Regions from separate parts of the Homo sapiens genome. Here region 1 is linked to region 2. Evidence: fine-mapped expression QTL. A gene starts in region 2. The other region holds a variant in brackets. All regions are shown on one strand. Distances are between the middles of the regions.

The links. PIP is the estimated chance that this variant, and not a neighbour inherited with it, causes the effect. A credible set is the group of variants that fine-mapping cannot tell apart.
Region 1: its variant is the best candidate, but not a certain one, in a credible set for the expression of STX10 in subcutaneous fat (GTEx, PIP 0.58).

The regions. Positions count from the first base shown.
Region 1 is chr19:13,213,088-13,215,985 of GRCh38, reverse strand. It overlaps CACNA1A (calcium voltage-gated channel subunit alpha1 A), which reads left to right. Exons shown (of 47, transcript NM_001127222.2): 39 at 1,378-1,485; 40 at 1,653-1,753. Among named protein-coding and RNA genes, the nearest start is that of IER2, 64 kb to the right of the region's middle. RefSeq lists enhancers at 1-134, 255-304 and a silencer at 185-385. The variant C/G (reference allele first, on the strand shown) is at 1,571.
Region 2 is chr19:13,148,639-13,151,536 of GRCh38, reverse strand. It overlaps STX10 (syntaxin 10), which reads left to right and starts at 1,162. Exons shown (of 8, transcript NM_003765.3): 1 at 1,162-1,398; 2 at 1,640-1,809; 3 at 1,944-2,038; 4 at 2,446-2,508. The coding sequence starts at 1,364. It overlaps IER2 (immediate early response 2), which reads right to left and starts at 1,126. Exons shown (of 2, transcript NM_004907.3): 1 at 985-1,126. RefSeq lists enhancers at 992-1,061, 1,082-1,281 and silencers at 1,402-1,561, 1,602-1,651.

The DNA of each region.
Region 1 (2,898 bases), 64 kb before region 2:
TTGTGCCACGGCACTCTAGCCTGGGCGACAGAGCAAAACCCTGTCTCAAAAATCAAAATAAAACCAAAACCAAAACTTCCTCTGTTGGGGATGCTCCAGGGCGTCCCAGCCTTGAACAGATGGGTCACTGCAGTAATAATCCTATGGCAGACACTGTCCCAAGGCTGCACGCACGTTACTTTGATCATCAAACAACCAGGTGATAGCCAGGCATGGTGGTGCGTGCCTGTAGTCCCAGCTACTCAGGAAGCTGAAGCGGGAGAATCTCTTGAACCTGGGAGGCGGAGGTAACAGTGAGTCGAGATCACATGACTGCACTTCAGCCTGGGAACAGAGAGAGACTCTGTCAAAAAAAAAAAAAAAACAGGCCAGACGCGGTGGCTCACGCATGTAATCGCCAGCACTTTGGGAGGCTGAGGAGGGTGGATCACCTGAGGTCAGGAGTTTGAGACCAGCCTGGCCAACATGGTGAAACCCCGTCTCTACTAAAAATACAAAATTAGTTGGGCGTGGTGGTGCACACCTGTAATCCCAGCTACTCGGGAGGCTGAGGCAGGAGAATCGCTTGAACCCAGGAGGCAGAGGTTGCAGTGAGCTGAGATTGCACCATTGCACTCCAGCCTGGGCAACAAGAGTGAAACTCCATCTCAAAAAAAAAACAAAAAAAAAACAACCAGCCAGGCGCGGTGGCTTACGCCTGTAATCCCAGCACTTTGGGAGGCCGAGGCGTGTGGATCACCCGAGGTTAGGAGTTCGAGACCAGCTTGACCAACATGGTGAAACTCCGTCTCTACTAAAAATACAAAAAATTAGCCAGGCATGGTGGTGCATGTCTGTAATCCCAGCTACTCGGGAAGCTGAGACAGGAGAATTGCTTGAACCCAGGAGTCGGAGGTTGCAGTGAGCCAAGCTCGTGCCACTGCACTCCAGCCTGGGCAACAGAGCAAGACTCTGTCTAAAAAAAAAAAAAAAACACACACACACACACACAACAACCAGGTGAGGCAAGTACTCTTGCTATCATCTCCATTTCACAGATGGAGAAACTGAGTTACTAAGTGGTAGAGTAACCTAAGTCATGCAGCCGATAACTGGGAGACAAGATTGGGACCCAGGTCGCCCAGCTGTTCTCCATGCCGGGCTGTCTCCTGCACAGCTGCTCCATGGTCCTGGCCCCACCGAAAACCAGAGCCCACAAGGTCATTCCAGCAGCACTGCCCAGGGCCTCCTCTGGGCCAGGCCGTTGGGGAACTGGAGACCCCATGGGGACCAGAAAGATTGGGGTCTCGTTCTCGGGAGCCTATGGCTTTGCAGCTGACCCAGAGTCCAGCTGACACCCAGGCAGGCAGTCAGGGTCTGTCTACACCCCCATTGCAGGAGGAGCCGACAAACAGCAGATGGACGCTGAGCTGCGGAAGGAGATGATGGCGATTTGGCCCAATCTGTCCCAGAAGACGCTAGACCTGCTGGTCACACCTCACAAGTGTAAGAGCTGAGCCCAGCCCTGGGATCCAATCCACCAGGACAGATGGAGGGGGAGGGAAAGGGGAGGCCTGGGGAGAGTGTTGGC[C/G]TGGGCTGGTATACACAGGGACCCAGGACAAGGGCCCCAAAGAGGCCTGCCCTTGGTGAGCTCACCGTGTGTGTGCCCCCAGCCACGGACCTCACCGTGGGGAAGATCTACGCAGCCATGATGATCATGGAGTACTACCGGCAGAGCAAGGCCAAGAAGCTGCAGGCCATGCGCGAGGAGCAGGTGCGCTGTTCGCCGCTCTGGGGACATCTGGGCTGGGGACAGTGGCTTGCATGTCACCACGGGAACCAACTGGAATATGAGGGTGGCTGAGCCCCAGGGCAGGTCCCTGAAAAGTAGGGGCTGTGCACAGCAGCTCACACCTGCAATCTCAGTGCTTTGAGAGGCCAGGGCAGAGGGATCGTTTGAGACCAGGATGAGACCACCCTGGGCAACACAGTGAGACTCCATCTCTACAAAATAAAACATTAGCCAGGCATGGTGGTGCACACCTGTAGTCCCAGCTATTTAGGAGGCCAAGATGGGAGGATCACTTGAGGCCAGGAGTGGGAGACCAGTCTGGGCAACATAGAAAGACCCATATCTCTACAAAAAAAAAATAAAATTAGCTGCATGTGGCGCCATGCACCTGTGGTCCCAGCTACTTGGGAGGCTGAGGCAGGAGAATCACTTGAACCTGGGAGGTGGAGGTTGCAGCAAGCCAAGATCAAGCCACTGCACTCCAGCCCGGGTGATAAGAGCAGGACTCTATCTCAAAAAAAAAAAAAAAAAAAAAAAAAAAAGTTCTTGCCAAGGACACATCATGTGGATTCATTCTTCATTCAGCTGCTCCACCAACACTTATTGAGTATTACTGTGTGCAGGGCGCTGTTCTCAGTCCTCGGGGATGCACCCATGGGGAAAATAGGCCAGAATCCCTGCCCTCAGGGAGCAGACATTCCAAGTGGGGAAATGCCAATGGTAGCAAATGACTGAATCGTGCAACATCCAGCAAAGAGAAAGAAAGTGTCGTGGGGGAAAGTGGAGAAGAATCCAGAAGATAGGAGTATCCAGGGGAGGAGGGGATGCGGTGGGAAATGGGTAGTTGGGGAGCCTCCCTGAGAAAGTGACATGTGAGCAAAGGCTTGAAGGAAAAGGGGAGAGGGAGTGAGCTAAGCAATACCTGGAAGGGTGTTCCAGGCAGAGGAAACAGCCAGTGCAAAGGCTCTGAGGCTGGACCGTGCCTGGGTTGTTTGGGTAACAGCAAAGAGGCCAGTGTGGTGGAAAAGAGCAGGGAGGAGACAAGGGCAAGGAGGTGACAGGGCAGATCCTTCAGGGCCATGGGAGCTGCAGGAAGGACTCTGGCTTTTTCCCCAAGCAAGTGGGAG
Region 2 (2,898 bases):
GCTGAGGCCCCCTTCATCCCATCTCTCCTCTTCCCAATTATTTCCCCCATACAAGGCCCCCTCCCAGGTTATTCCTGACCCCTGCCCCACACTGATCTTCTCAGGCCTTGGGACACCCTCCCGTCCCGCCCTTCCCCCGCACGCTGGGAACTCAAAAGTTATTCCCCCCTAAAATACCCTTCCCAAACTCGTCCCCATTCAACGATGGTGCCAGACTGCGACGACCTGCCGAAGACGCAGGCCGTCCCCACCCCGCTAACCTTACCACGGAGACCCCACAATGATTTCCCCAGCCCAGGCGCTATCTCTGAGACCCCACGCAGCAACTCTGACGCGCAAGGGGGCGACCCTCCGAGGACTCCCTCAGATAACCCGCCCACCCTCCAGGGGAGACCAGGCCCCCTATCACTCAAAAAAAGTGCTTTCCCGAAGCTCCCCAACACACAGCGCCACTGTCACACATAGGGACGACCCTGAGTCCCTCCGCTGATATTCCTGGCCCCTACCCAGACGGAGACCCCACACACAGAGGGCCCCCCTGGAGACCATCCTCAAAGCCACCACCCGCTACCCCCAGGCTCGCACCCAGAAAGACTCCGCGCTTCTGAAGAAACCCACCTCCACGCACTTTCTCAAAGGTGACCTCCCCCCGCTGCTGGCATATCTGGGACCCCCTCACGACCACCTCGCCCCAAGGCGACCTCGAAGTGCCCCCAACTCCGCCACTTCTCAGGAAAGAGATTGGGAGAATGCGGCAGAACTCCCCGGAGGAGCAGGCCCGCTCCTCACCGCGCCCCCGCAGGGAGAAGGGAGGACCACCTCTCCCCCAGACCCTAGCCAAACCTGACACTCGGGACCCTGGGATGGGACGATCTCCCAGGTGCCAGCTCAGGGAGTCCATGAAAAGCTTCAACGAATCGAATGAGCCCCTTCCCCAGCCATAATACCCAGCCGCCAGAGATGAGGGAGGCTATCATTATTTACATTGCCCGTGCCTGGAAGGGAAACTGAAGTTGCGCAGGAACAATCCGAGGAACTGGGCCTTGAACCGAAATTCCGAACTCGGACCCGAATAGGCCCAGACAGAACTCCGACACCGCCCCCTACGGTGCGGCACGAGAGGGCTAAGGGGCGGGGGCATGTGCACCGGAAGCTGCCTCTGCCCACAACCAAGATGGCTGAGGAGAGGGCGGAAGTGTCCGCACGTCGGGCCTCCGAGGCTTCTCTTTCTCCCCTGGCGGTCCGGCTCTCGATGGTGGCGTGACGGGGGCGGGGGTGGCGGCGCGTTCTCCTCGGTTGGGAGGGAACCAGCCCGCGAACCCAGGCCGGGAGGGGGGTTCGGCCTGGGGGGGAAGGGACTGACATGTCTCTCGAAGACCCCTTTTTTGTAGTCCGAGGGTGAGTGACAACGACGGGGGAGGGCGGAGGGTGCTCTGTACCCAAGCCAGCCAGTGCCCGGGTGCCGGCCCCAGCGTGCCCGGCGGGCTGGGCAAGGCCGTCGGGGTGCAGAGTGGGAGGCGCACGCAGGGGTATATAGGGGTCTCCGGAGTCCCCCATGCGTTTGGGTTTGCAGTCGGGGGCAGAGGCAGGCGGGAGGACCGCCTGCCCCCAGCCGCGCCCGCCGTGCCCCTGCCCGCAGCGAGGTGCAGAAGGCGGTGAACACGGCCCGCGGGCTGTACCAGCGCTGGTGCGAGCTCCTGCAGGAAAGCGCGGCGGTCGGACGCGAGGAGCTGGACTGGACGACCAATGAGCTGCGGAATGGCCTGCGCAGCATCGAGTGGGACCTCGAGGACCTGGAAGAGACCATCGATATCCTGGGGCTTTGTGGCAGAGGGTGGCATGGGAGAGCCCATTGCGGTGGCAGCCCACCTTCGGGTAGGGCTGGACCCCTAGGGACGGGGATGATATCTGGCTCCGGCCTTGACCCTTGACTCTCAGCCCACGTATAGTGGAAGCCAACCCAGGCAAGTTCAAGCTCCCAGCCGGGGACCTGCAGGAGAGAAAGGTGTTCGTGGAGCGGATGCGAGAGGCAGTCCAGGTCAGGAAAGGTCCTGCAGGCGGGGAGTGGGGGAAGGTTTGAGTGTGTTTTTTTTTCTTTCTTTCTTTCTTTTTTTTTTTTTTTTTTGAGACAGAGCCTCGCTCTGTCGCCCAGGCTGGAGTACAGTGTTGCAATCTCGGCTCACTGCAACCTCCGCCTCCCAGGCTCAAGCGATTCTTGTGTCTCAGTCTCCTGAGTAGCTGGGACTACAGGTGCCTGCCACGATACCCGGCTAAGTTTTGTGTTTTTAGTAGAGACGGGGTTTCACCATGTTGATCAGGCTGGTCTCGAACTCCTGACCTCAGGTGATCCACCCGGCTTGGTCTCTCAAAGTGCTAGGATTACAGGCGTGAGCCACCGCGCCCAGCCTGAGTGTCTTTCCTCCCTAATGCTGTCCTTACCTCCAGGAAATGAAGGACCATATGGTCAGCCCAACAGCCGTAGCATTTTTGGAGAGGAATAACAGAGAGGTAAGCCTTCCTGACCCACCCTGCCCACCTGAGCCCCTGGGGGTAACCAAGCCAGATCCCTCTGTGCGTGTTCACCTGTCCCTTTTGCGACAGTGCCCGTCCTCTCTGTGGGCAGTTATCTTCTTGCTGTCTACCTGCCTGCACTTTCTCGGTGTGTGCACCTGAACCTCTCTATGTGTATATGTCCGTGGGTTCCTCTCTACTGTGTCCTCTGGGTCTATACTGGTTTCCTGTTGCAGGAGAGGGCTGGGGGCCTGTGTACCTATCTCCTTTCTGCTTCCATGCCATTTGTCCTGTGTGCACCTGTTTCCAGGACGCATGCCTGCCTTTTACTCTTTTTTTTTTCTTTGAGACAGAGTCTTGTTCTGTTGCCCAGGCTGGAGTGCAGTG